4 linked regions of the Homo sapiens genome follow. The protein of the gene in region 1 purifies or fractionates together with the protein of each later gene. This does not show direct contact. Each region holds a gene or a part of one and is shown on either strand. Other genes may lie near its edges.

The links.
Region 2: the proteins of GPATCH2L (region 1) and TYMP purify together in Homo sapiens (affinity purification with mass spectrometry; 2 studies listed by BioGRID and IntAct, with this or other methods). This does not show direct contact.
Region 3: the proteins of GPATCH2L (region 1) and A2ML1 purify together in Homo sapiens (affinity purification with mass spectrometry; 2 studies listed by BioGRID and IntAct, with this or other methods). This does not show direct contact.
Region 4: the proteins of GPATCH2L (region 1) and PLBD1 purify together in Homo sapiens (affinity purification with mass spectrometry; 2 studies listed by BioGRID and IntAct, with this or other methods). This does not show direct contact.

The regions. Positions count from the first base shown.
Region 1 is NC_000014.9:76,154,778-76,161,982, reverse strand, and holds part of GPATCH2L (G patch domain-containing protein 2-like), read right to left. Parts: coding exon 6,958-7,205; intron 1-6,957.
Region 2 is NC_000022.11:50,526,871-50,535,065, forward strand, and holds the start of TYMP (thymidine phosphorylase isoform 1 precursor), read right to left. Parts: upstream 3,143-8,195; 5' UTR 3,034-3,142; exon of another isoform or gene 2,850-3,033; 5' UTR 2,840-2,849; coding exon 2,626-2,839; intron 2,469-2,625; coding exon 2,266-2,468; intron 1,741-2,265; coding exon 1,642-1,740; intron 848-1,641; coding exon 718-847; intron 414-717; coding exon 295-413; intron 1-294. Other genes in the region: CIMAP1B (ciliary microtubule associated protein 1B), read right to left, coding at 3,788-4,188, 4,321-4,425, 4,700-4,903, 5,099-5,207. UniProt on the Homo sapiens protein: May have a role in maintaining the integrity of the blood vessels. Has growth promoting activity on endothelial cells, angiogenic activity in vivo and chemotactic activity on endothelial cells in vitro. Catalyzes the reversible phosphorolysis of thymidine.
Region 3 is NC_000012.12:8,853,551-8,860,755, reverse strand, and holds part of A2ML1 (alpha-2-macroglobulin-like protein 1 isoform 1 precursor), read right to left. Parts: intron 6,629-7,205; coding exon 6,507-6,628; intron 5,977-6,506; coding exon 5,925-5,976; intron 5,248-5,924; coding exon 5,164-5,247; intron 3,593-5,163; coding exon 3,416-3,592; intron 3,250-3,415; coding exon 3,168-3,249; intron 2,811-3,167; coding exon 2,654-2,810; intron 1-2,653. UniProt on the Homo sapiens protein: Is able to inhibit all four classes of proteinases by a unique 'trapping' mechanism. This protein has a peptide stretch, called the 'bait region' which contains specific cleavage sites for different proteinases.
Region 4 is NC_000012.12:14,508,767-14,515,971, reverse strand, and holds part of PLBD1 (phospholipase B-like 1 precursor), read left to right. Parts: intron 1-4,260; coding exon 4,261-4,461; intron 4,462-4,571; coding exon 4,572-4,712; intron 4,713-7,205. UniProt on the Homo sapiens protein: In view of the small size of the putative binding pocket, it has been proposed that it may act as an amidase or a peptidase.

The sequences.
Region 1 (7,205 bases):
CTCACTGCAACCTCTGCCTCCCAGGTTCAGGCAATTCTCCTGTCTCAGCCTCCCAAGTAGCTAGGATTACAGGCCTGTGCTACCACGCCTGGCTAATTTTCATATTTTTAGTAGAAACAAGGTTTCACCACATTGGTCAGGCTGGTCTCAAACTCCTGATCTTAGGTGATCCACCCGCCTAGGCCTCCCAAAGTGCTAGGATTACAGGCATGAGCCACCGCACCCGTCCTAGAGCTAGTAAGTTTTAGGGCAATTTTTTCTGCAGCAACAGATAATACAGAATCTTTATAAACTCTTTGTTGAAATTAATTCCCTTCTTCCTAAACAGTAGCTTCTAGTTTCAACAAAATAAACCCCTCTGAATTCCCAAAATTGCCAGGGGGAGCAGGGGGTGGGAAAAAAGCACAGCACACCCTCTGATCTGAGAGCTTGCTAATTCTTTCATACTCCTAACCACAGAAGACTGTAAAGTGAGAACTGAAAGAGTAACTTATACCTGTTCCAATTATAATAAGGAGGTACAGAATTACTTTATCACCTACAATCAAAAGTTGGTATTAATAAATTACCATCTGGGTTTGTTTCTCCCCATTTAAGAGCTTATTAACCAAGTAGCTTAATAAGAGGTGTTTTTTGCATCTAATTAATAGATATCTTAAAGTTTATGGCTTACATCGTCATTCTAAAAAACTTTTCTTAGTAAATAATAATGCACTTAACAAAAATAAAAGTTGTTTCAGAATTTAGAAAAACGTGGAAAAAAGTCACTCTTAGATCTACTGCCCAAAGGTATTTTTGTTCTATCGTTTTCCAGTTTTTTTCCAGGGTAGAGGTGGCACACTGGTAACCCTTTGTAATCAGACTTCTGAATCTAGTAGTAAACAAGACTGAGGGAGAGGTTATTCAGAGAAATATCTCACATCAGTTCTGAAATTATTCCTATAAGTAATGAGAATATATAATAAAAGAATTTCTTTTTCAGTTTCATTCAGACAGTGCCATGAAAGGCAGCAACCTCCGCAGGTTGACAGGTTCGATACTGTGACTAGTACAATCAGGTATACTTTGCAGAGACAGAATTTTCCTCAGGACTCTGCTATTGAGCTGGGGGCTGTGCCTCAGAGAAGTCCACCCATCCTTTCAAGACTTCCCTTTTCTTAGAGCTAACAGTGATTCATCTTCAGGTAGATGGAACGTCTTCTCACAGTAAATTTTTAAAGAACATGGATTCTGGGGCCTGCATATCTAAGAATGTCTGAGCCACTGCACCCAGTCTTCAACCCCTTTTAAGATTTTTCTTTCCTTAGTCTTGAGCATATGTGAAAAAAAGAAAAACTAAAATAAAATATTTTTTTAAAATCTCCGTCTCAGTAGAAGTCTCTTCTCATTAATTTTCGCTTTTAATCTTAAGACTTAATTTTTCAACTCAAGAACACTTTTTTCTCTTCAGTTGTATCTTCTTCTCCAGCACTTTGGTTTCTTCCCTGGGAATATTTACATACTCACAGACTTGGTCTCTTTGTTTAGAGCTACTAAGTTTTAGGGCGATTTTTTTCTGTAGCAATAGAGAATACAGATGGCCTATTGCCAAGATTTCCTCAAACTACAAGGCTGATAGAACCACACTTGACAATGAAATGGAGGCCCACGTTAGAAGTGCTGAGCCTGCCCTGAAGGTAGATAGCAAGCCCCTGCATCCTTTCTCTACAGTCACCTTGCAGTTCAGAAATGCAAGGCCAGTTTCAGTCAGAAAATCAGGCAGCTACAGGTTGAGGCAGGGTGTGGTTCTATCCTTCTCTTCCCATTGAGCATCATTCAGTTTCTTTTTTCTTTTTTTTTGAGACAGAGTCTCGCTCTGTCGCCCAGGCTCGAGTGCACTCAAGTGCAGTGGTGTGATCTCGGCTCACTGCAAGCTCCGCCTCCCGGGTTCACACCATTCTCCCGCCTCAGCCTCCTGAGTAGCTGGGACTACAGGCGTCCACCACCACGCCAAGGCTAATTTTTTTGTATTTTTAGTAGAGTCGGGGTTTCACCATGTTAGCCAGGATGGTCTCGATCTCCTAACCTTGTGATCCACCTGCCTCGGCCTCCCAAAGTGCCGGGATTACAGGCGTGAGCCACCACGCCCGGCCTGAGTATCTTTCAGTTTCTATTTGGTGGCTCTAACTCCCAGAATACACTTGGATAGGGAAGCTTAGTGTTTTCTGTGTGTATTTGTGTTTGAGGGTAGGAAGCAGTTATAGGGTATTGAGTCCTAGAAAGTATAGTCTTCAAGAACAAAGATTCCAGTTGACATGGGCAGAGAAGTGCATTCTGGAGACAGTACATTCTGGAGACTGCAGTGTTTTCTACACCTTCATTTACGGCACACTCCTGGAATGGGGTCAGAATCAAGCAGTGAGGGTTAGATGATCCTATCTCAGTCCAGCATAGCTGTATGAGATAAAAGCCTCCCAGTAGCACTGGGAGCACTGGGCTAGGGGCTCTGCATATTCTCTTGGCCAGCTGTAGATCTGAGAATGGCAGTTACCTATGTCCACGGGAGTAGAGAAGGGGACCAAGGGTAATCTATGCACCCTTGCTGGCAAATACCAAGAGGCCTTTGAACAAATTCTGCGAAATAAGAGAAAAGGGAATATCATTCTAAAAGTTGAGAGAAAGAATGAATCTTTGAAGATGACTGCCAGTGGGAACCACAAGAATTCAAGTGGGCAGTTGAGGCTACTTACCAGTTAAGACATTACAATGGTGGGAAGTAGACTGTGACTGAAAAGAATCGCAGCATCTCAGTGTTACAAGGGATCTCAGAAGCCTTCAGTTCAACCTTCTCAACTCCACAGCAACTAAGTAAGCGGTCATCAAGCCCATGTTTGAATCCCCCCACCTGATCTAGAAGTTATTACGCATTACATGGTGAAACAATTCACTTCATTTTTACAGAGTCCTAATTTTTAGAATCTTATTTTTTAACCGCAGCAACATTTAACACTCTGTACTCTCTATCCCTGAGTTCTGTCCTGTGGAGCCACACAGAACAATCCCAATATTTCTTTTAAGAGGTAGACTCTTTTACGAGATGGATGTTTCTTTCAAGAGATAGACCTTCAAGTACAATAGTATCATATCGACCTCCCAAGCTGTGTGTTTTAGTTGTCCCTAAGGATACTAGCAGAACTGTGAATATACCCACATAAGCACACTATGCTAGCTATTCGAGAATCTCACATGCAATACTACCAACTGCAACAATGGTAAATATATTCTTGGTCAGCATCCCTACTTACAGAATAGAAAACAGAACACCCCCACCTACCATACATATTCTTTTACACAGCTCCAGGAAACCCTGATTAATGACCTCCACTTGCAAAGGAGGCTACTTACCTTAACCATGAAATAATGAATGCTATTGATCCAACAAGCTACTGCTATAGAGTGTTATTGATCACCCAATCTTTGGTTAAAATGGTCCTCATTTAGCAATTTCACTGTCACAAACACCTGGAGCAAAGCACACTCATAATTAAAGAGTTTGGGGGAGTTAAAGTGAGAGGTGATGGACAGAGATCTCAGCTTTCTCCCACTTATTCTTGCTTCTGAGCTATTGTTTGTATCAGAAGGGATATTGATTTTCTATAAAAATAAGAAAACAAGAGGCACCAAAGGGCCGCAGAAGGTCAGCCTGGGCTGGAGAAGGAGTGGGTAGGTTTAGCACTCTATCTCTGTCACTTGCCTTCCAAGAGAGGAGAATATTTTCTTTCCTGTGAGATCAGCCTCTAATACATCACCTTAGGAAGGCTCCTGAATGTGACCTCTGGCCATCACCCAACCAATTCACTTATGAAAAAAAAAAGAAGCTAAACTATATTCAAGGGGAACAAACAAATGATGTGTTAGTAAAGAATAGAGCAAAATTAGGCTACAGTCACCTAATAGCTAATAGCTATTAATAGTTGCTATACAGACAATTTAAATAAAGATCAGTAGAAAATAATTTTACAGTAGTTGTTCTGCTTTAGAATACTCACAAACACACATACACAGAAAAATATTAAAATAATAGTTTGATCTCTATGCAAGCAGAAAAAAACTACTATACTATAACCATTTTTAGTTCCTCAAAACTTGTGAGGGATTGGCTGGTGTAATATTAAAGGAAGACCAGAAACAGAAAAGCAAACAAATATTGATGAAGTCTATACTCCATGTTTAGGTCGCAAAGAGTGAGTTTAAGGAAATTAGAAATAAGCTGATTGAGACACACATTTTCAAATCTAAAACATCTAATACATGCTTTAGAAAAAAAAAACGCTACCATTGACTAGGCTAAGCTAAGCTTAACAATCAACTTCATCTTAATAATCTTACAATGTGGATCATTACTCTGACAACCCTCAATACCACTGCTAAAAAGTAAAATTCTACATTTTGATCTGTATGTGAATAAACAGTGGCACATCCAAGTAGATTTATGAAAGGGTAACCAAGAAGATTCTTGAAAGTATTTCTTTTAAAAATGCAGGGAAAAAATAAAGTAGAAAATTATTGACAGAATCAACTCATCAAGACAGTATAATATCCAAATCATATACTATTATCTCCTTACACTCTAATGCCAGCCCTTTTTAAAGGTGTGCCTAACAATTAAGGGAGATTTTAGTTCCACTCTCCTCTTGAAGAGAGGCTGAACACAACATTCAGTCAAAGAGTAAGAATCACCCCCTTTCCCCACAGAATGGATTCAGGGGGAAAAAATACAAAGCACTTCTGTTTGTAACTACAAATGAATCGAGACAAGTCAAGGGGAATTTAGAACTCCTAAATAACTAGAAGATTTTAAAGAACTTTCCTCAATGCCGTGTGTGCCACCACTCCGCCCATTATTCCTTCACAGCTACAACCCTTTAGCATCTACATATTGAAAGAACTCTGAAGTGAGGGGCCAGGATAATAGCCCAAATGGGTGAATGAGTTCTCCTCAATTTGAAAAGAGTAAGAATTTCATAAGAATTCCCATCCACTTAAGTTATCCAGACTCTCAGATAACGAGAATTTACATTATTACATCCTGACTAGAATGTGCAATAGATGTGTCTGGAGTAAGAAGGAACAGAAAAGAGTGAAGCATCTCATGCTAGAAAACAGGCTCTGCATCTGGAGCCATACTTGGGCTGTTAGAGCAGACAGAGTTAACAGTCGCTCTCTCACATACAATTATGTCGTAGTTTAACAAGAAATTAAGGGGAAGAAACATACACAAAGCTACTATCCCAAAAGGCTACTTTTAAAATCACCATTCTCAATACTAAGAAGACTTCTATTTGGTATATATGCTCAATATTAAAACAAACTTGAATGTCTCAATAGAGGGTTTCAATAGTGTGAAAGGCTACAAGTTGACTAAGCATTTCTTGTTTGATTAAAAATAGTCTGATGAGGGAAAAATACCTTTATAATCCAAATATATACATATAAATTCTGCAAATAGACCTTAGAAGGAATGAGGCATTAGAGGAAAATTAGGAAAGTCAAATTATGAGCCTATCTCAATATAGTCTGCAGACTGGCAAATATAAAGTTAATAAGAAAAAGTTTAAAAGCTGGATTAAAAACCACTCAAGAAAGGTACAGGTATACAGACCTAAACAGTTTTTCCTGTTACTGACACAGCCTCACCTCAGTGTTCCTAAGATTAATGTCTTTGTTTTTAAGCTAAACTTCAGAAAGGTCATATGTTCTACAGTTGGGAAAGTTAAATTGAGACAGAACAACTCAAAGGGCAGCACAACATGGTGGTTAAGAATGAGCTTTGGAATCAGGCTTGATTCCCAGTTTTGGCACTGGGTGATCTTAGGCAAATTATCTAAGCTCTTATAACCTCAACTTCCCTTCTGTAAATACAAATAGTGGTATCCACCATATAGTGGAATTGTGAACATTAAATAAGAGTATATGCTAAGTCCATAGTACAGTGCCTGGCCCATAGTTGAGTGCTTAATAAATGCCAACTAATATTAACAATAATAGAATACACTGGTTCTCAACTGGGAGTACTCAATCCACCTAGGGATCACCCCTGGAGGCCTTTGGGTTGATACAATGAAAAGGGGGTGTGAATAATGCAGAGATGCTAAATATTCTGCAATGCACCATAAAGAATTGTCCCATCCAAAACACCAATGGCATCCTCACTATTAAGAAAAAGATAACCACAGATTAATATTAATAACATTAAAGTATCAAGCTGGGGGGTATCAATGTTCCTAGGACTATCTGAGATGTAAAAAATAAAAAGTCACCAAAACTACACTTACATTTTTAAACATGTACCCATTAGAGACAAATTTTTCTGGCTTGATCACATCTGATGTAAGACTAATGGGACTCGGTACTGTTATTTTCAAAGCCCACCATGTGTTCAGACAATTTGAATGTCAGCCATAAAAAAATAAATTCAATATAATCAAACCACAAGTAGCAGAAAACAGAATTATAGCCAAAAAGCATCTAAAGCCATGATTCTTAATGAGGACAGGCAACTTAATGGAACATTTATAAACTCCGTATACCTGGCGCTAGCATATTCTCTCTCACACACACACACCAGCCTCTGCTGAGACCTGAGTTCTAAACAACAATATTTATGTATAAACTGTATGGCATAATAAGCAGCAAATTGTTTTTTAAAATAAAATTATTAGTTTTGCATTTGAGGTACGCGTTTTAAACAGTTTTTAGAAACAACTGTGTTTCTATTACATATAGCCTTCCTGACAGAGGGAAATAGACTCATGAATGGTACCTTAAAAAGCTAAACTACTGATTGATTCAAGGAAGGCTTCAAAGTCAATACTAGAGTGGCTGGTTTGAAAGAAGGTAGAACCCACTAAGACCATGGATGTGCACTTTGGGAAAAATTAACCAGGAAAATCTTTGACTTAGTAAGGGAGATCTCACCATTCTGACATGTTCTCATCAGAGCCCTGTTTTTGTTCATCTGTTTCACACTCCATCCTTTCTTTCCTTCCTGTTTTGCTTAGGAAAGTCCTATTTTCTGCTGATTCACACAATCCGTGGCCTGATGAGGTCCAGGGAGTATTCTCCTTCCAGCGGGACAGACGCTGCTTCTTAGCAGACTTGAACCTGCAGCCTCTCTCATAGCTCCAATCTGACACCTTCAGCTTCTGCTGAAGGCTAGCAGCCAC
Region 2 (8,195 bases), on another chromosome or scaffold:
GGAAGAGACACGAGTGAAGTGCGACACCTCGCCATGGGGCCAGGAGGAACTTGTACTTGGTCTGGGGCAGGAACGCCACAGAGGGCTTCCCCAGGTCCAGGCCGGGCCAGCCTTGACCTCTAAAGTCACAGCAGGTTAGGAAGCCGTGAAGGAGGGAGGGACTTCGGGCAGAAGAGGGTGGGACTGGGGTTAGGCAGGACTGCTGAGTGGAGGGAGGCAGTGGGGACGGGAGGGGTGAAGGGTAGGCTGGGCCCGCATCAAGACGCTTGCCCAGGGAAAGGCCACACCGCTCACCAGCGTCTTTGCCAGCTCCCGGGCCTGCTCCTGGTTGGGGAAGACGGCGGCCCCTCCGAACTTAACGTCCACCACCAGAGCGGACAGCCCCTCCACGAGTTTCTTACTGAGAATGGAGGCTTTGGGGGAGGCAGAGGAGGTTGGAGACAATGGAGAACCTGGAGCTTCTTGGGAGAGTTCGGGGATGCCGACTTTGGGGTCAGGGGCCCTGAGCATTGAGGGTCAAGTCCCTTATTATGGGGGTGGCAGCACCTGGTGGGTTGAGTATCAGGCCACCCCACATGGTGGTGGTCAGGCATCTTGTGATGGGGGTAGGGGGGCACACGGTCAGGTGACGGGTAACTCCTAACGAGAGGCCCTTGACTTGAGTTTGGAGGTCAGGAGCCTGTGAACATGCAGAAGCAGGCCATGGAGTCAGGTCACCTGTGATGAGTGGCAGGCTGTCCACGGTGGCTGTCACATCTCTGGCTGCATATAGGATTCCGTCCGCAGGAACCAGCTGCTCACTCTGACCCACGATACAGCAGCCCGCCTGGTCCAGCAGCACTTGCATCTGGTCAGACATCCCCTGTTCTCAGTGACTTATGGTAAATGACTTAGCAGCTTTTTTTTTTTTTTTTTTTTTTTCTGTGAAGAGTCTTCCTCTGTTGCCCAGGCTGGAGTGCAGTTGGCACAATTTCGGCTCATTGTGACCTCTGCCTCCTGGGCTTAAGTGATCCTCCCACCTCAGCTTCCCAGTAGCTGGGACTACAGGTGCGCACCACCACACGCGGCTTTTTTTTTTCTTCTTTTTTTTGTAGAGATCAAGTTTCACTATATTACCCAGGCTGATCTCCAACTGGGCTCCTCTGCCTCCCAGAGTGCTGGGACAGGGTCTCACTCTGTTGCCCAGGCTGGAGTGCAGTGGCATCGTCCCGGCTCACTGCAGCCTAGACCTCCCAGGCTCAAGTGATCCTCCTGCCTCAGCCTCCTGAGTAGCTGGAACCACATGCGTGCACCACCACACGCAGCGAACTATTTTGTAGAGATGGGGTTTTGCCGTGTTATCCAGGCTGGTTTTGAACTCCTGGGTTCAAGGGATCTGCCCTCTTCGGCCTCCCCAAGTGCTAGGACTACAGGTGTGAGCCACCGTGCCCCGCCAGCCATCTGTGATTTTGACCAACTTCCCATTTTATGATCCTAATCAAAGTTCCACTGATGATTTCGGCCCAGGCCCAGTGACTCATGAGTAACCTTGACCAGTGTTCTCATTAGTGACCCTAATGATCCACCAGTGATCTTTTAGTGATTCTGGCCAGGGTCTCCATCATCAACCTGGATTAATGACTGATCCGTGGCGCCCCGTACCTGCTCTGGGCTCTGGATGACATTGAATCCAGGAATAGACTCCAGCTTATCCAAGGTGCCTCCTGTGTGCCCCAGACCACGTCCGCTGATCATTGGCACCTGGTGGTCAGGGATGCTGAGTACCCTGCACAGTACCCCTCCCCCACCTCTGTGCATCCCTTCACCTTCCCTGGCTAGGAGTGCAGCTGGATTTGGAAAGTATTTAAGCAGCTATAGGGGTGCCCAGCTGGTGAGGGAATGGAAAGGAAGTTTTCTTGGTTGAGAAGTGTCAGTAGGGGAGGAGGTTGGTACCTGTCCTTGGGGAAACAAGGCTTGGGGCAGAGGGAGGAAAGTCCTCAGCTCCTCCCTTGGGGGAGCTGTCTGGGGACCCAAGGGGAAAGGGGTCTGAATTCCATCAGTGGATCTTTTTCCTGCTCCAAGGGGCCTGGTCTGGAGCCAGAGGGGCCCCAAGCGCTGTGCTGGGGAACGGGGTGGGGAGAACTGTGCTGGGGAGCAGGGTGGGGAGAAGCCTTGGTAGGGTCTTGGAGGCTTTGGGCCAGGCTTGAGGTTGGGAGCTGCCTGTGGATGGACTGGTTGCTGCATGTGCGGTATAGGCTCCCGTCTGGAAAGGAGGTGGTTTCTAACCTTGCAGCCACATGCCGCCAGGGCAGGTGCGAGGACCAGGCTGACCTTGTCACCCACACCCCCTGTGGAATGCTTGTCCACAAGCTGCTGGCGCCAGGCCTCTGGCCACTCCAGCTGCTGTCCCGACTGAGCCAGGGCCTGGGTCAGCACCGAGGTCTCCTCCAGATCCATGCCCCGAAGTCGGATGGCCATCAGCATGGCCCCTGGTATGTGGGGGTACGCGTGAGGGTGGCAGCCCACAGCGGTGGGGCACCCTGGGGCCGGTGCTGGTAGTGGGGCACCGTCGCACCCCCAGGGACCCAAAGTCTCTCGGGCTGACCTCCCAGTCGGGGTCAGGAACGCCCAACCCTCCCCACGCACCGATCTGTGCGCCCTGCGCGCTCCCATTCACCACAGCGGCCACGAAGCCCCTGATGTCCGCTTCGCTCAGGCGGCCTCCGTCTCGCTTCATGCGGATCAGCTCCGGGAGCTGCTTGGGCTCTGGCGAAGGGTCGGGAAGTCCCTGGCTCCCTTCCCCGGAGAAGTCACCAGGCGCGGGTGGGGCCCCGGTTCCCGGGGTCATCAAGGCTGCCATCGCTCCGGGCCTGCGGGGATGCCTGACACGTCCGGGGTCTGCGGCCTCCCGGCGTCGGTGTCTGAGCCACGTGCTCCTGTCCCGACCCCTTTCCCGTGTCTCTCCGGTGTCCGCCCCTCGGTCCCGTGTCTGTGTCGCCCTCGTCCGTGTCTGCCTCCCGCTTCCCCGCCTCGCGACTTGAGCCCCGCCCGTACCTGCTTAGGGCGCTGCCCTCGCCCGCTTGCTCCGGATCCCAGCCCAGGTACCCGGCCTCGCCCGCGGGTCGGGACCGTAGGGTTCAGGGTTCGCGCACAGCGGTCCACTGCCGGCGGCGGGGCGGCGGCGCCCCAGGACGGCAGGCGGGTGGGGCCGCCTGGAGGGCGGAGCTCGGCAGTCGCCGCCCCCGGGAAGCCTTGCACGCCGCGCCCCGGCCAATCCCCCGGTGCCCCCGGACACGCGGAACTTCCGGGCCGTCGGGGCCCGGGGCCGTCGGCGGGGGTGATCCCTGGCCGGTCCCGCCCGGCGTGGGTCTCGGGCGTCTGTGGCTCCCGAGAGTCCCCCTCCCGCCCTCGGTGGGGTCTCGACGTTCGGACGCGGCGCAGCGCTGGGGTCCCGGCCTCGCCCGACGCTCGGGCCCCGCCCCGCTGGGTTCGGAGTTGGGACACGGCCCCAGCCGTGGCTCCACCCCAGGCCTTGCGCCAGGACGCGCAGAGAGAGAGAGAGAGAGGCGGACACGATGCGGACTCGCAGACTTTAAGCAAACACGTGTGGGGCCGCTCCCGCCTGGCGGGTCAGTTGTCCGCGTCGGTCACCAGCGGGGCCAGGTAGTCCGAGTGCCGGATCCCGAAACTCCAGCCGCGGGGCTTCCGGTGCTGCGGGCCCGGAGACACCGCTGACCTCGCGGGGCCGGCATCCTCTCCGCGCCGGGACCCCTGGACCCCCGGGGACTCTGATCCCATCACTCCGACCTCAGGCCCTCCCCACTCTCCTGACTCTGACCCTTGACCCTGGGCTCCAGGCCACCTGATCCACGTTGTAGGCCGCGGGCCCTGGCTTCCGAGTGTTGTCTTGGGGGAGCGAAGTCCGCGCCAGAATCGTGAACTGGGGGGCCCGGGACTTGTAGACCCCTGGACTCACGACCTGATAGGCGCAGGGGCCCGGGGTCTGCGAGAGGGCAGAGGGTGCTGGCTGCCGCCTCCACTGCCGCGGACCAGGGACCCCCTGCGTCCGCCCCGGCCCCTCCCCCACCTTGCTGAGGTCCTCGAAGAAACTGCCAGCCGCTCTGCGGCCGTAGATGGAGCAAGTTGGGGCGGAGACTTTGCCGATGACGCGCGGACCCAAGAGCGAGGGCACCGTATAGGCCGCGGGACCTGGGGAGGAGGCAGGGCTCGGGGGTAGTGGGTCTCCGCGGACAGGCGCAGGGTGGTCCCAGCTCCCGGAGGGCGGTCCCCGGTCTCGAGTGGGAAGGCCCACAGTTCTGGGATGGGCCGTTCTGACCTCACCTGGGCTCTGCTGTTCCGCCTGGACACCCCAGTTTCGGGGAGCAATGGTGTGCCGAGGCGCACTGGGGTACGTCGCGTTCCCCGCTCGCTCCGGGAAGTACCTGCCTGCGGGGCGGATCAAGGGTGTGGGGGGCTAGAACTGCGTGGGAGCCTGGTGGGTACCCGAGATGGGGTCCTGGGACTAGTGGGGAGTCTGAGCCACGATTTATCAAAGCCCCGTGGGGTTCGGGGTTTGGGATTTGAGATCCGGATATGGGGGTACCGAATATGCGGTGTTAGGGTATCCGAGGGGGACTCGGGGTTCAGGTCGGGGGTTCCCAGGTGGGCCTCCCTGGAGGCAGTTCGGCGTTGGGGTGGCCAGGGGCCCGGGGGTCCTGACCAGGTCCCGGAGTGAGGAAGGGCGCTGAGCGGCGTGGGCGGCCGTAGATGGAGTAGGCGGGGGCGCCGTCGGTGCCGCGCACGGTCATGCGAGCGGGCACCAGGTGGCCTGGCCCGGGGCCGCACGTCGTCTGCTGCGTGGGGAAGCGCGCGCCGAAGGTGAAGGCGGGGGCGCGCGGCCGCGACGGGTCATGCAGGGCGTAGCCTGGGAGCATCCGAGTTAGCGTCTGGCCGGGCCCAGCCCCAAGCCCCATCTGCAACACGGACCCTCCCCCGGCACAGACCCCCTCTCCCCTCTAGCAGGCACGGTTCAGCCCCGAGCGCAGGCCTCCCTGGTCTCTTCCCCTTCCCTCCCCCAGGCGCCGTCCCACCCCTCAATCCCGGGGCCTGCCCCTTCTACCGGTGTTGGGCGGCAGCTTGTATTTGGGCCCGGGGCCTCCGTAGTGCGCCGCGATGGGGCCGCGGGGCCGGTGTGGCCGCCAAAGGCCCACCCAGGCGTCCGAGCCCATAGCGCGGGTGGGGGGCGCTTACGGCTCGCAGCACCTGCGGACAGAAGGCGGTGGCCGCGGCCCCTGCACCGCAAATTCTTGGGGAGCGCACTTTCCCACTACCCTGGGATCAGCGCGGGGCGGGGCGGGGCCTGGACCGTATCCCTGGCGCCAGCAAAACAAACGCGAGCTTCCTTCCCGGCTGTGTGGAGCTTGGGGCCGGGAGCGGATCCAGGGCCATCACCCGGACTCCAGGCGCATTAGGCAGGGACGTGAACTCGCGGGGGCCAAGTCTAGACCCAGACTTGGTGAAGGGAATCACCTGGGGGTGGGGTGGGGGCAGGAGATTTTCGTGCTGTTGGGAAAGGGTGCCCCGGGAAGGGCCTGCGTGGGGGACCCGGTGCCCCGAGGTGCACTGACCTGTTGTGGTAGCTCCTAGCGTGGGAAAACAAAGCGACGTGGCTGGACATCCCCGCTCCGCCCCGCCCACCTCCCAGACCCCATTGTGGCCCTTTCCCGCTTCCTGGCAACCGCACTGACTGCCTGCCCCCCCAACCTGGGTCCGCCTCCCCCTTCCCCACCACCCAGTGCCGCCGCTGGGCCTCTGTGTGGATTCTGTGGCACGGGTGGGATAGTAGCCTGGGCCACCCAGAACGCTGGCCTCACCCTTACCCAAGTTTCAGTATACCCATTCTGGAATAGGACAAATCTGCAGACAAAAGCAAGGATGGGAATAAAGGAACTGAATAATGCAAAGCACACACTCCATTTAATTATGTGTAGAGAGAGGACTTATCTATTTAAGTCCATGAAATATTCGCAAAAAAAATCATGTATTGGGCCACAAAATAATCACACAAATTGAAAAAAAGATGTGACACATGATTTGATTACAATCAAATACAATTCTAGGCAAACAAAATGTAAAAAAAAGAAGAAGAAAACTCAGCCTGGGCAATACAGTGAGACCCATCTCGACAAAAAACTTTAAAAATTAGCTGGGTGTGATGATGTACATCTGTATTCCCAGCTATGGGGTCGGTGGCTGAGTCGGCAGGATCTGTTGAGTCTGGGAGTTGGATCCTGCAGTGAGCAGTGATCCCACCACTAGACTCCGGCCTGGGTGACAGAGTGAGACCTTGTCTTAAAAAAAGAAAAAAAAAGGGAGAGAGAGAACAGGAAGCAGGAGCAAACAAATATTTTGAAATTGACAAATCTTTAAAAAAAAACCCTGGATCAAAACTTGTCAGAAATAATCTGGTTACAAACTGTAGCAGGAAGAGCCGCAGACAAAACTCCTCAGACACCAGGTTAAAGAAGGAAGGGATTTATTCGGCCGGGGGCATCGGCAAGACTCCTGTCTCAAGAGCCGAGCTCCCTGAGTGAGCAATTCCTGTCCCTTTTAAGGGCTCACAACTCTAAGGGGGTCTGCGTGAGAGGTCATGATCGATTGAGCAAGCAGGGGGTACGTGACTGGGGTCTGCGTGCACCGGGTAATCAGAACGGAACAGAACAGGACAGGGATTTTCACAGTGCTTTTCCATGCAATGTCTGGAATCTACAGATAACATAACCGGTTAGGTCAGGGGTCCCTCTTTAACTACCAGGCCCAGGGCGCGGCACTGGGCTGTCTGCCTGTGGATTTTATTTCTGTCTTTTAGGTTTTACTTTTTCTTTCTTTGGAGGCAGAAATTGGGCATAAGACATATATATGAGGGGTGGTCTCCTTCCTTAAAACTACATATCAAACACTACAAAGGTAGATTCCCTTCCTACTGAACTCCTACAGGAGGCAGCTAAAGCTGTGTTCTTGTGGGCGGAGGATTACCCAGGTGCCGAGGCAAGAGACTGAAGGCACAAACTGTTTCAGTATAATAAAGAAAATAGTTACAGTAAGAATAGTTATCATACAAATTAGATATAGAGATGACCATGGACATTATCAATCATTAGTGTAGACATTAGTCATTAACTTTTAATATTACTCTTTGTTGCATCATTAATATAACCTAGGAATCACCGGCGGGTATAGGGTCAGGTGCTGAAGGGACATTGTGAGAAGTGACCTAGAAGGCAAGAGGTGAGCCGTCTGTCACGCCCATATAAGGGCCGTTTGAGGGCTCCTTGGTCAAGCGGTAACGCCAGTGTCTGGGAAGGCACCCGTTACTTAGCAGACTGCGAAAGGCAGTCTCCTTTCTTTGAAGGAGTCAGGGAACACTCTGCTCCACCAGCTTCTTGTGGGAGGCTGGATATTTTCCAGGCCTGCCCGCAGTCATCCGGAGGCCTAACCCCCTCCCTGTGGTGCTTCACTGGTCACGCTCCTTGTCCACTTTCATGCTCCTCCCATACTCCTGGTTCCTCTTTGAAGTTCACAGTAGATAGCGGTAGAAGAAATAGTTAAAGTCTTAAAGTATTTGATCTTTCTTAGAAATGCATAGAAGAAAACGCTGACGTTTGCTGCCTTCCCTCTCTGCTTCAGCTACCTAAAAGGGAAGGGGCCCCTGTCCTGTGATCACGTGACATGCTTCACCTTGTCAATCACTCAGAAGATTCACCCTCCTTACCCTGTCCCCTTGTCTTGTATGCAATAAATATCAGCCGTTTGGGGCCACTACCGGTCTCCTCCTCTTGATGGTAGTGGTCCCCCGGGCCCAGCTGTTTTCTCTTTATCTCTTTGTCTTGTGTCTTTATTTATTATAATCTCTCATCTCCGCACACGGGGAGAACACCCACTAAGCCCCGTACGGCTGGACCCTACATGTTCTGAGGAAAATTTATAGTCATTTTAAGATGACTTCATTATGGCTGGGTGCGGTGGCTCACGCCTGTAATCCCAGCACTTTGGGAGGCCGAGGCGGGTGGATCACGAGGTCAGGAGATCGAGACTATCCTGGCTAACATGGTGGAACCCCGTCTCTACTAAAAATACAAAAAAAAATTAGCCAGTCATAGTGGCGGGCGCCTGTAGTCTCAGCTACTCGGGAGGCTGAGGCAGGAGAATGGCGTGAA
Region 3 (7,205 bases), on another chromosome or scaffold:
AGCTCTTTTTTCCACAGGCTTTCTGCAGCTCCAAGCCTCCAGGACACACAAAGAGGGAACAGTTTGGACTTCATAACTGCACAGCCTTAAACAGCCTGCAGGAGGCAGCATGTGGACTTCAGCTGAGTGGGTATTTAAGAAACCCAAGAGAAGGAGTTAGGAAGGGTAAGAGCTTTAAAGAAGGGAGGAATAAGGAGAGAATCTGCCGCATCACCGCATCTGAGCCTCCTCACATGCAGCTCCCCTCAAGCAGCACAATACCCAGCCCTTCTCCAGCAGAGATTAGGTGAGACCTTCCCTGCTTATCGCCTTTCCCAGAAAGAGCTAAGCAAATTTTTAAAAATATCTACTCAAATTATTATCCTCATTCTATAAATAAGAAAACAAACACTTAACAAGATTAAATAGCTTGTGGTCACGCACAGTGGTTTATGCCTATTATCCCAGCTTGAGGCCAAGTCGGTGGGGAGGATCGCTTGAGCTCAGGAGTTTGAGGCCAGCCTGGGCAACACGGTAAAACCCCAACTCTACAAAACCTGCAAAAATTAGCCAGGTGTAGTGGCACGTGGATCCGTGGTCCCAGCTATTCAGGAAGCTAAAGTAGGAGGATCATCTGAGCCCGGGGAGGTCAAGGCTGCAGTGAGCCATGATCGTGCCACTGCACTTCAGCCTGGGTGACAGAGTGAGACCCTGTCTCAAAAAAATGAATAAGTAAATAAATAAAAAGATTAAATAGCTTGCTCACGGTTACATGGCTCATCTGCAGCAGGACTGGAATTTGAACCCAGGACATTTAACTCTGGAGCTCATGTGCCACACCACTAACCTTGGCTACACAGAGGATGGATTTCTCAATGGACTGGCCTGCTCTCAAAAGAAAGTAGGAAGAGGCTGGGCACGCATAGGTCACGCTTGTAATCCCAGCACTTTGGGAGGTCAAGGCGGGTGGATCACTTGAGGCCAGGAGTTCAAGACCAGCCTGGCCAAACATGGTGAAACCCCATCTCTACTAAAAATACAAAAAGTAGCCAGGCATGGTGGCACATGCCTGTAGTCCCAGCTGCTCAGGAGGCTGAGATCACTTGAACCCAGGAGGTAGAGGTTGCAGTGAGCTGGGATTGCGCAACTACACTCCAGCCTGTACAACAGAGTAAGACTCTTGTCTCAAGAAAAAAAGAAAAGAAAAAAAAGGGAAAGAAGGAAGAATACCTCTGAGATCTTGCTCTAGTCAAGTCCTTTATCTTAGTAGAGACAGGGTTTCAGACTGGTCTCTAATTCCTGACCTCATGATCCACTCGCCTCAGCCTCCCAGAATGCTGGGATTACAAGCATGAGCCACTGCGCCTGGCCCCCACGCATATTTCATACAGTGTATAAGAGAAGAAGAAGACAAAAACTTAGGGGAGACTAATAAGATCCTGCAGAGGAAGACTAATGAATCCTATAAATAGATTTTTTTTTTAACACTCAAGATTTTTAATCCTTGCCCTGGAATAGCAATGTAAGTGATCTCTCTAGAAAAGTTTATACAAGTCTTTCTTGCACTGAGTGTGTCCTGAATTGAACAAGTTATCCTGCAGGATCTACGCCTCGCCCTCTGCTTGGGACAGGTACAGACAAGGTAGTGAACAGAAGAAAGCAGTGCCTCTGGAGTGCAACTGCCTGGTTCAAATCTCAGTCCTGCCACTTATTAGCATGCACCTTGGGCAATTTACTTAGTCTCCATGGCTTAGTTTCTTCATCTGTAAAATGGGATTAATAATGGCATACCAATACCTAGCTCATTGATTTGTTGTAAACATGAAATAATATCAAATAAACCACGTGCCTAGAATAGTGCCCAATAGAGTAAACTTCTTACAAAAGACGTTGGGCTGCCTACTAGTCCTCACCACAGGAAATGGCTTTCCCAGATGGATTTGGTGACACAGTAAGAGGCCCAGAGATCTTTTAGTCCAGTAGTATCAAATTTCAGTGTGTATCAGAATAATCAGGAGGGCTTGTCAAAACACAAATTTCTGGCCCACCCTCCCAGAGTTTCTCATTCAGTAGGTGTGGGCTGGGAGTCAGAATCTGCGTTTCCAACAAGTTCCCATGTGATGCCAATGCTCCTGATCTGGGAACTATGCTTTGAGAACCATGTTCCAGTCCACATTCTCTTTTTCTTTTTGAGGCAGGGTCTCACTCGGTCACCCAGGTTGGGGTGCAGTGGTGCAATCACGGCTCACTGCAGGCTTGACCTCCTGGGTTCAAGTGATCCTCCAACCTCAACCACCCAAGTAGCTGGGACTACAGGCATGCACTAACAAGCCTGATTAATTTTTCATATTTTTTTTGTAGAGATGGGGTTTCACCATGTTGCCCAGGGTGGTCTCAAACTCCTGGGCCCAAACGATCTGCCCGCCTCGGCCTCCCAAAGTGCTGGGATTACAGGCATGAGCCACTGCACCCAGGCTTCATCTGTATTCTCATTCTACAGACATGAAAACTGAGGCCCAGACCAGCTAAGCATTTTGATCACGGTCACCCAGAGCCACAGTGGAGATCAGGAGAAAACTGATTCCCAGGCCAGTGCTCTTTTGCTTCTACTCGGTCAGAGGTGTGGGGTCCTTCGAGACAGTGGTTGGCTGCAGGCTCCTGGACAGATCCGCACCTTCATAGCTGTGTGAAGGAGATTTCCCACGTTGGCATAGCAGCCACTGGGGAGCTGGTTTCCTGCCATCCACTTGAGAGCATCCTGGATGTTCTTGGGATCAATGAAGATGAATTTCTGAGCTTGGCCAAAGCATTTTGTGACAAACGCTGTCAGCCTACATGGGTAAAGAGGAAAATATGGCATGAAGAGGAATTTCCAGGTGAGGGTGCAATCATTTCTTCATTTATTTGGGTGTATACTTCCAGAAGGGGAGCTGAGGGAACATATGCCATAGCAGGCCTAGAAAAGAGAGGCATTAATGGGCACCAATGAGGACAAGAACAGGGGAGGCACAAGCTCAGGAAGATCGAGGGACTTGACCATCCATGAGGGTGAAATAAACAGTATTAAAGAGGTAGAAGACTGAGTGCAAGAAGGAAAGGGGTTAAGGGGAGAGGTAGTGGAATAGTTCCAGAGGGCTCAGGAATTATGCTCTGGAGTACAGAACTCATTGGGAATTGGGTGATATTACCATGTGTTTCCATTTCCATCTCGCTCCCCAAAGGCACTGTATGAGCCATTGCTGTGTTTGTACATCAGCTCCTTCTGGTACCCTGGGAAGCCAAATGTGGTTTTAGATCACAGCGACAACTTCAGAAAACACCCCCATGCCGTTCAAGGATATGGGACACTTGAGGGGCTGGAATTCCCTGTATCATCAATCTGTCATAGGGCCTAGTGGAGGAGAGTGTTCAAGAAAGAAAGACTGAACCAACTTACCTATTTCCAGGAAACCCACTGCCCGAGACCTGATCTCCTCCGTCAGCAGCCCTGCCTTCTCCAGGTACTGCAAGACATAGATGATGGGAGCAAACAAGACCATGTTCTGCTCGCCACAGCCACTGGGCATCTGCACCAGACCATCCAGGTTCTGCAGGGCTGTGCCCATAATGTCTCCTGGGATCCAAAAGGAGAGAGAGAAGGTAGGGGTACAGAGAAGAAGGGACCCTCTAAGAGTTATCATCATTCACTGAACAAACACGTATTAGCTATCATTTAATAAGTACCTACTATGGGCCGGGCGTGGTGGCTCACGCCTGTAATTCCAGCAGTATGGGAGGCCGAGGAGGGTGGATCACCTGAGGTCAGGAGTTCGAGACCAGCCTGACCAACATGGACAAACCCTGTCTCTACTAAAAATACAAAAAAAAAAAAAAAAAAAGTACCTACTGTGTGTCCTGGGAAGACCACAGTAAATCAAACTCGGTCTCTACCCTCAAAAAAACTCACAGAGGAGCAAACCATTACAACACATTACAATTTTTATTCATTATAAACAATTTTAATACAGTACTACAATGTCATACTGGATATGTACGAGGTGCTAGGGGACACGGAGAGGCACATAAGCTATCTAAGAGAGTTCAGGGCTTTTAAGAAGACATGTCACTGAGCTGATGAGTGATGTGACAAAACTTATAACACTTAGGATCAATCTCTTAAGCTCCTCTACCACTGCATGTACGTTCCTCACCCTCCAAATCACCAAGTTTCTCTAAAACACAGTTCTGACACTCTTTTCCAAGTTGTCACTGACCCCTTCATATACTTCCCAAGCCAGTGAACCTGACATAAGTGACTCATTAACATCTGCATTGTAGCCAACAAGCTCAATTCAATCTATAAATGTGTCCTGAATGTCAACTATGTTGCAGGAACTGTACTAGGAACACAAAAGAAAAAGATGTGGCCCTTCCTCTTCAGGAGCCCCCAACACAGTGTGGAAGACAGATATAGACAGTGAACTCTAATACAATAAGATAAGTGCTATGTCAGACTTACGAATAAAATAGACAAAACAGAGACACTGTGACTGCAAAGGATCTCAATAGAGGGTGAGGGAGTAAAGAAAGAGCCTAACATTCATAGGGCTCCTACTACATGCTAGATATTGTGCTGGGGACTTTATATTGCATTTAATCTTTACACCAGTCTGAGAGGTAGGTTATTATCACTGTTTTACAGAAGAGGAAAGAAGGCCCAGAACTGTTCACTAACTTGTTCAGGGTCACATGGCTATTAAATGACAGGTTAGATATGATTTCTACGTTCATGCTTTTCAACCCACTTCCTCCCTTGCCCCAAACAGTAAGTGTGCTGCCTATTGTAAATATGGTTGTATCTTCCCTAAACTATACCCAAATTCCTCAGTTTTGAAAATGGTTGCTGCAAATATTCTGTTTTCCCTTCACCCAATTTATAGACTGTCTAAACCTAAAATCAAGCATCAGCGACCTTACCTTCTTCCTACCCTGACTCTCTTCCATTTTTAACTAGAGTACAAGTCTAATCCCATCTGTACTGTTGCCTACACTGTATTTCCCTCCTATATAAAATACGCTCTTTTTCCTTCATCACTTGTTATTAGTTACACTCTCCGGATAGGTCCGTATGTCCCGCCCCACTCCACACCTTTGCAGCCTCCATTCGCCTTTTCCTTTCTGAGTCAAGAATCTCTAACTGCTTACCCAGAACCGTAACATAAGCCTTGGTCGAGTCAGGAACAATGTCCACTGGGAGCTCCAGGGAGACAGATTCAGATGCCACCTTTCCTGTGAGATGCAGAAAAAAAGGTGACACAATAGAAGATGGGGAATGGCAGGGGTTCTCAAGACAAAATTTTAGAAGAACTTTCTATAATCCAGGGATTTCTGTACTCGGTGCTTTCTCTGGGATGCAGAAAGCACTGGGTACTATTCATAGTGATCTTGCTGAAAATAAATTCCACAGAGAGTCATCATCGTGCTGCACACTTTCTCTTCTTCCTCCTGCCTCCCAGTTAATCAGCCCCATGAGGAATGGCACTTCAGACTCTCCTATTCCTTCTGGTACTATGCATTCCTCCTTTTGCCTATGAAAATCTCCTGCTGCCGGGTGCAGTGGCTCACGCCTGTAATCCCAGCACTTTGGGAGGCCAAGGCAGGAGGATCACAAGGTCAGGAGTTCGAGACCAGCCTGGCCAATATGGTGAAACCCCATCTCTACTAAAAATACAAAAATTAGCCAGGCATGGTGGCATGTACCTGTAGTCCCAGCTACTCAGGAGACTAAGGCAGTAGAATCACTTGAACCCGGGAGGCAGAGGTTGCAATGAGCTGAAATCGTGCCACTGCAATCCAGCCTGGACGACGGAGCGAGACTCCGTCTCAAAAAAAAAAAAAAAATGAAAAGAAAATCTCCTGCCCTCTAAGGGAATTCTCACCACCAATCCTGCTCTGAGTCCACCCACCTTTTGGGCACAGCAATGAGCTGTGTGTCTTCTCCACCAGGACTCCCTCAGGCTGCGATGAAGAGAGACACAGATAAAAACAACAAAGATGAACATCAGGAGGGATGGCACTAAAGGAAAGGGAAGGGAGGCCCCTCGCTGTGCCCCCAGGGCTTCCCTCAGAACTGCAGACAAGAGCTTCTCACTGAAGCTCAGAAGAACTCTGCGTCAACCCAAGGATGGGCCCTTTCTGTAAAGTTCTTTCTGGGCAAGTGCTAGAGCCAAAGACACATTTAGGCAACTTCTAAGAGGCAAGATTGACAATGGGCTTCATGATGGGACGAAAAAGGCAGCTATTGATGAAGACAGACATTTTAATTAGGTAAACTAACATTTGTTGAGTGCCTATGAGGTGCCGGGTTTTAGGTGCTTTCATAGGCCGTGGGTGTGGATTAGGCAAATGTTCAAGGGGCCAGGGAAGGAGAAAGTTGAAGCTGCCTGGTTGGACTGGAGTATGGTTGCTGTGAGAGACTAACTCACAGCAAGACGAGATGCTGAGCATCCCTCGGTTGGTTGCTGTCTCTACCTCTGAAGAAAACTCACTTTGACGAGAACTGGCTTGATGAGCGTGTCACTTCGGCCCTTTTGGGGAACAAACCCCTTCTGGCCCCCACATGGTTCATTGCTGTCCAGAATCTTTGTACTAATAGTAAAGTTAATGTGACCTGAGAGAAAGAAGAAGGGAAGCCATTAGCCCTATTGCCAGAGGTACCAGTGAGGTCCATTCCCATTTGGATCAGCATTTCTGAAACTTTAATGGGGATCTTGCAACAGTGCAAACTCTGCTGCCATAGACCTGGGGTGGGGCCCATATTCTGCATTTCTAACAAGCTCCCAGGTGATGCCAGAGAGGCTAGTCCAGTGTGGTAGGTAACCTCTAAGGGCCCTCAGAGATCCCTGCATCCTGATATTTACATCCATTGAGTGTGAGCTGGATTGAGTGACTCGCTTCTGTTAAAGAGAACAGGGTGAAAGTAATGACTCTTCTGGGATTAGGTTACAAAAAAGACTGCAGCTTCCATCTTGGGTGCACCCCTTTTCTCAAACTGCTTGCTCTGGGGAAGACAGCTGTTGTGTGATGAGGCAGCCCAGCAGAGAGATTCATGTGATGAGATACTGAGTGAGGCCCCTAGCCAAAAGCTGAGGTCAAGAACTGTGTCCTTCAGTCTAGCAGCCTGTAAGGATCAGAGACTTTGGGATGAGCTTGAAAAATCAATCCTCTCCTAGTCGAGTCTTCAGATG
Region 4 (7,205 bases), on another chromosome or scaffold:
GTTCAGGCAATTCTTGTGCCTCAGCCTCCCAAGTAGCTGGGACTACACCACGCCCGGCTAATTTTTTTTTTTTTGTATTTTTAGTAGAGATGGGGTTTCACCATGTTGGTCAGGCTGGTCTCAAACTCCTGACCTCAAATGATTCACCACCCACCTCGGTCTCCCAAAGTGCTGGGATTACAGGCATGAGCCAGCTTGGCCTTTTTAAATATTAAGTGCATGTACTTGAAAGTAGGTACACATGAAGATAAAAGAATAGGCTCCAGGAAAATTTAAGTCAAGTCTTCATAATCTATAAAATTGCCTATTTAATAAATATATGTTGTAAACATTTTTAATGTTCTGTAATTACTGTTATTAATGTCATGTTACCTCTTTGATCTAGGTACTTTGGTCATAAAGCTGAAGTATATAAAAACAATCTATATTTAGTACAGACCAAAATTCATGTCCTTTGCTTTTAAAAGGTAGAACCAAGAAAAAAAAAGCAATAGCAGAATACGGGCACGTATTCTAAAGAATTATAAATGGATTTTGCAGCACTTAATTTCTGTTTTTTTTTTAAGTACCTTTCTTTGATTCTTTGTCTCCTCATTGGTACCATCCCAGAACACTGATGTCTTCTGCCAGATCAGACCTGTCTTGATCATCTTCCCCACCTAAATCAGGATGTGTCCTCCCTTCTACCTTTCCAGAAATCCCACCTTAGTTTTCATACTTTTCTTGATTAACTGGTCATAAGATGATTTCCCTCAACTCCACCCTGTCTCAACATGCAACTCCCCATGAGTCAATCTTCATAATTGTTTCTAATGTGTTTGTTCCATGGTGTGTGTTGAGTAACTGTTGTTGCCATTTGCATGACTACATAGTGGTTACTGTTTATTTCTGCAGTTTGGTGTTTTTTTTAAGTCTTGAAATAGGATTTATTAACCGGAAGTGTTTCTTTTTATTTCTTAATTAAATTCAGTGAGAAGCTTATCATGAAATGTTATTCTTAGGCTGGCATTCATAAAACACTGGAGTGTTTCATTTTCTCCTGATCTCAATCTGCCTTCCAAAGCTGCTAATGACAGATGAGAGCAAGATTATAATTTTAGTTAGGGTGTGGTGGCTCATACCTGTAATCCCAGCACTTTGGGAGGCCAAGGCTGGAGGATCCCTTGAACTCTAAAGCTCGACACCAGCCTGGGCAACACAGGGAGACCCTGTCTCAAAAAAAAAAAAAATTTAAAAAGATTATAATTGTATGTAGTCAAAGAAATGTGTTTCTTTTCAAAGGCAATGTGTCAGAACTTTGTCCCATCTCTGGGCCTTTTCTTTATTATCTTAAACTCTAAACTATAGAATTAGCCTCCTCAACTATAGTTTTTGCAGGCCAGTTCACTCTCCTTGCTCTAGAACTCTGGATAGCCTATATATTTCCATCATCCTGTCTCTTTCATAAAGAATCTTGCCTTTAAATGAAAGACTACTCCTTAAACATTAGTACTTGTAATATTCAATCACCTACACATATTAAAGAACGCCTGCCCTCTTGTGTCCAGGGAGACTGCTACAGCAAGTATTGAATTAGCAAACTTGTCATTCCGGAAATACAGCATTCTACCCTACAGGGATTATCTACCAGGGAGCTTTCTCAAGGCTGCCAAGTATGGTTGTACAGTTTGAAAAATGATCCCAGCCCAAGACACGAATGCAATCCATTTTACACTCTGTCAAGCCATATATCCTTGCCCAGGTCATGTCTTTCTAGAGAGGTGACCCATTAAAATTTCATTCAAGAGTACTGTTAAACCTTGTACCACTTGGAATGTGCAACTTTCTCTAATTTACACAAAGCTCTCTATAGCTTAATGGCAGCCGTGTAGAGGCTCATTAAGAGTTAGTTGGGGCCGGGCACGGTGGCTCACGCCTGTAATCCCAGCACTTTGGGAGGCCGAGGCGGGCAGATCATGAGGTCAGGAGATCGAGACCATCCTGGCTAACATGGCGAAACCCCGTCTCTACTAAAAATGCAAAAAATTAGCAGGGCGTGGTGGCGGGCGCCTGTAGTCCCAGCTACTTGGGAGGCTGAGGCAGGAGAATGGCGTGAACCCAGGAGGTGGAATTTGCAGTGTGCCAAGATCACGCCACTGCACTCCAGCCTGGGCGACAGAGCGAGACTCCGTCTCAAAAAAAAAAAAAAAAACTAAGAGTTAGTTGGACAGTCCTCTCATCGTGTAACTTTCCTACTCAAGAAATTTCAAGAAATTAAAATCAGATTGTTAGAGCTGAATAGCTGAATGACATTAGTCCCAGGTTATCAGAAGAAGGAAATAAGGAAGAGAGAGGCAAAATAAGAACTGTCAAATTCATTAGAGGCAAGCAGGAAACTAAAATGCAGGTCTTCTGACTCCCAGTCCATGCTCTTACCTCCGGTTTCAGGTGACCCGTTTCTTTGACCCCACCTTACTTATTCCATACTAGGCTAGAATAGATGTGTAATAGCATGCATAGGGCTGGTGGGGTGATTTGAGGCAGTATGTGGACAAACATTTTTTGCACATTAGTAGAAATGTATTTGTTTTAATGTATTTCTTTGGGAAAAAACAAAAACATTAAGTCCATAGTTTCTGAGACATTATGATATATGACAAGGGTAAGTTAAGTTTGAAAAGTGAGTTAATTTGAAGAAAGATATTAAGTAGTGCATATGTTAATAGCTTGATTTAGCCATTGACAATGTATACATATATCAGAATATCATTTTGTATGCCAAAATATATACAATGTTTCCTTGTCAGATATCAAAATATCCTTTCTTTTGTATAACATAAATATATATAATTTTTACTTGTCAGTTAAAAAATAACAAAAATATTAACTAAATGATAGTTCAGATAGTACTCAGATATGGCAAAAATGATAAAAGTGGTAAAAAATCATGGTAGAAATTTGAGACCATCTCAGTCCATTCTGACTACTATGACAAAACACCTCAGACTAGGTAATTTATAAGCTATAGAAATGTTATTGCTCACAGTTCTGGAGGCTGGGAAGCCCAAGATGAAGGGACTGGAAGACTCAGTGTCTAATGAGGGTCTGTTTCTCGTAGACAGTGCCTTCTCTCTGTGACCTCACATAGTGGAAGGGGCTAGCTAGCTCCCTCGGGACTGTTTTGTAAGGGCCTTAAAACCCTTCAGCAGGATGCACCGAAGGAACTTACCACTCTGGCCCCTTCTAACCCTACCACTGAGGTCCTTTTCTGTTTAACACTGACAGTTGTTCCATTACTGTTACTGATGACAGTATATCCTCTCTTTTTATTACAGCTGTGCCTGATATTCTATCCTTTCCATACTCATCCCAGTATAAACCACAAAATAGGTCTTCAGAAAAGACTGTGGCTTCACTGATTTTCCTGTGTTGCCTCCAACATTTATAAAAAAGCATTGACCAAGAGTGTCAATGCCCTAGTTTCAAAACCATCTTTACTTTTCTAAATGTAGATGTTTTTCCATTTATAAAAATTATGTAGACTTAGCCGGGTGTGGTGGCCCACACCTGTAATCCCAGCACTTTAGAGGCTAAGGTGGGTGAATCACTTGAGGTCAGGAGTTTGAGACCAGCCTGGCCAACACGGTGAAACCCGGTCTCTACTAAAAATACAAAAATTAGCCAGGTGTGGTGGTGCACACCTGTAACCCCAGCTACTCAGGAGGCTGAGGCACAAGAATTGCTTGAACCCAGGAGGCAAGGTTGCAGTGAGCTGAGATCATGCCACCACACTGCAGCCTGGGTGACAGAGTCAGACTGTGTGTCAAAAAAAAAAAAAAAGTAGACTTATACAAAATTTGAAAAATACAGGAAAGTAGAAAAGAAGAAAAAAAGGCATTTATATTCTTACTAATGAACCCTGCTAATCCCCTCCCTAATTAAAAATTCTCCTGCAAAATCCTAGCAAGTCGGGATCTACATCTGTTTATCATTCTGGAAGCTTGCAATGTTCTGGATTTAACATATTTTTGTTATTTCAAATCACAAAATAAATTTTCAATGGAGAATCCAGGGGTGGAGTTCTTTTGGCACCTCTATAAGGGGCAGTTGGGTGACTACCACAGAGGTGAGCCAAAGCTGGGGGAGGCTACTGCAGATCAAGGATAGTAATAACTGATACACTTTGCAAAATGCATTGTGTATGTAAAGCTCTTTGTCAATAATGATGGTTCACTGTTCCATGTATACATATGCTGATGTGTATATTTGTCTTTCCTGTAGGGTTTTTGGAGTCTCTGGATGATTTTTACATTCTTAGCAGTGGATTGATATTGCTGCAGACCACAAACAGTGTGTTTAATAAAACCCTGCTAAAGCAGGTAATACCCGAGACTCTCCTGTCCTGGCAAAGAGTCCGTGTGGCCAATATGATGGCAGATAGTGGCAAGAGGTGGGCAGACATCTTTTCAAAATACAACTCTGGTAAGTGACCCTGCAGAATAACTGTTAGGCACAGACATATATTTTGATTTAGGCTTGTTAACCAGTAAAGTCATACCCATGCCCCGTCTTCATGTTTCCTGATATTTCAGGCACCTATAACAATCAATACATGGTTCTGGACCTGAAGAAAGTAAAGCTGAACCACAGTCTTGACAAAGGCACTCTGTACATTGTGGAGCAAATTCCTACATATGTAGAATATTCTGAACAAACTGATGTTCTACGGAAAGGTACTTTCTTCATGTCGTAAGTCTTAAAACCTGATGAGTATGTGTGTGTTCATATATGGTAGGGGAATGCACATTGTGTGAATGTGTGGTGGGGGAGGGTATGGTGGGGAAGACAGGATGGGGATGCTATATTACACCAGAATGACCAGGTTTAGCACAACATGTAAACCTACATCTCAAACTCTTATAGGACAATGTGCAGATTGGGACGCAAATCAGGCATTCATGACTCTATGATTTCTCATAGTTCTAATGTTACCTTTTCTCCTGTGTTCCTGGTTAAAGCTTTAAGTTCAATTCAGCAAATATTTTTGGAGTGCCACTGTGGCCCAGGGACTAGAAAAGCAAGGATACAGAATCCCTGACCTGGAAGGACTCAGGAGTCTAGTAGGGAAGCAAAGCACTCAAAGCAGCTGCAGGAACTCAGGATGGGAAGAGCTGTCATCAGGTCTCATGTCCCTAGGCCAGTGGTGAACCTAAACAGAACGTGGCTGTTAGTGGGTGGAGTCAGAGAAGGCACTTCTGGTGGGCAAGAAGGAGTCCAGACATTTGAAGCCAGGAGGCTCACTGCCTTGATTCAAATCTCAGTTCCTTAAAATCTCAGGCAAATTAGTGAATCTCTCCAAGCCTCATTTTCCTCATCTATAAAACTGAATCGTGATATAGGTCCACAACCACGTATTTGTAATTTTAAAATTCCAAAATTGTAAAACCACAAATTATTATTTTGTTTCTCTTGTTTTGCTTTGATTTGGTAGCCTAGCTCACTTGGTAGCAAGAAAATGACCTGATCTGAACTCACTTGGCAGCAAAAACTACCAGAAAGAAACTTTTAGTGGTTTTTAATTTTAATTTTTATTTTTCTTCAGATGGAGTGTCGCTCTGTCACCCAGGCTGGAGTACGGTGGTGCGATCTCGGCTCCCTGCAACCTCTGCCTTTCGGGTTCAAGCGATTCTCCTGTCTCAGCCTCCTGAGTAGCTGGGACTACAGGCACGTGCCACCACACCTGGCTAATTTTTTGTGTGTTTTTAGTAGAGACGGGGTTTCACCAGTTGGCCAGGTTGAACTCCTGACCTCAGGTGATCTGTCTGCGTCGGCCTTCCAAATTGTGGTGCCCAGCCTGTTTTTTTAAATTGTCTTTATTTCCTCTTAGAGACACCATGTATACATTAGGCTACAGAAATATCAACATCTTTGATTATGAGGTGTTTCCCAAAGAGACTGTAATGTCATATAATCCATGCACTCCATGGTTGTTCTAAAGTCTGAAAAACCCTAAATTCTGAGACTCATCTGGCTCCCAAGAATTTCTGGATGTGGGAGTGTGGAACTCTACAATTTCACAGGATGGTCATGAAAATTAATTAAGATAAATAGATAGATTTATTGAGAGAAAATGTTAGCTTTAAAAATCCTACTGGACAGTTCAGACTTTATGTTTTAGAAATTGGGAGTTCCTGACAAGGGAGAATAGACTGGGTGGGAAGAAAAGAGACTAGTTAGGAGACTATTGCAATAGATCAACTGGCAGATGAATAGGGACAGAACGGAGATAAAGTGTGGACCCTAGGGATCAGGACCTGGTCCTCAGTTTTCCAGGTCCCCAAATTGACTTTGTAATGATGCCTAGAGTGAGCCTTGTCAGTGGAGAATGGGTCACACCAACTAAATGCACTAAGACTTATGCATAAAACAAAAGGTGGGAGTTTCATTGCCAAGCAGTTCATATGCTACCAAGCAGTGGACCTACCTTCTTCTTTGCTTGTTAGGAAAATCCATCCAAGAAGTCAAATCATTAGGTGGTTACTGTTTAGCATAGAGCAATTCAAAACAGAGAACCCAGCTCCTAAGAGCCTGAAAATAATAGCATGCCTCAAGAGAGAGAGATGCTTGCTAAAGTAGTCTTTTCTTCTTTGGACAGTTGCTGATAACAGAATGGTAGACTTGGTTCTCTGCAGTCCCATTCCTAGACCCCTTGAAACTCCCTAAGACTAAAAAGAGTTGATGATGATCTGTCTGTATTTTTTTTTCTTTGCCAGAGGAGAGAAGAACAGAGAGTTAAATTCAGAGTACCTACTGCATTCTAGACACTCTTCTGGGCCTTTTACTTATGTTCTCTTGTTTGATGTTTGTAACATACTACCCCATAAGTGTTATTGTTGCCATTTTACTGTGAGTAAAGAAAAGCTCAGAAAGAAACATGTTTTGCCCAAACAAATACATGATATCATATAGCCATTAAAAAGGCGGGGGCGTCGGGGTCGGGGGTGGGCACATCTCCTAACGTATTTAAGCAACTGTGGTATGGTGATAGAAGCCCTGGATGTTTTAGTTAGAAGGCCTGTATTCTGTCAAGTTTTGTGAGCCAAGGAAGACAATTGACCTCTCTGAAACTCTGTTTCTTCTGTTTAAAAAAGGGATGGTAATACTTATACATCATCAGGTTTTTGTGAGATTAAACAAGCTGCTCTATTTTCTTTATTTATTTTGAG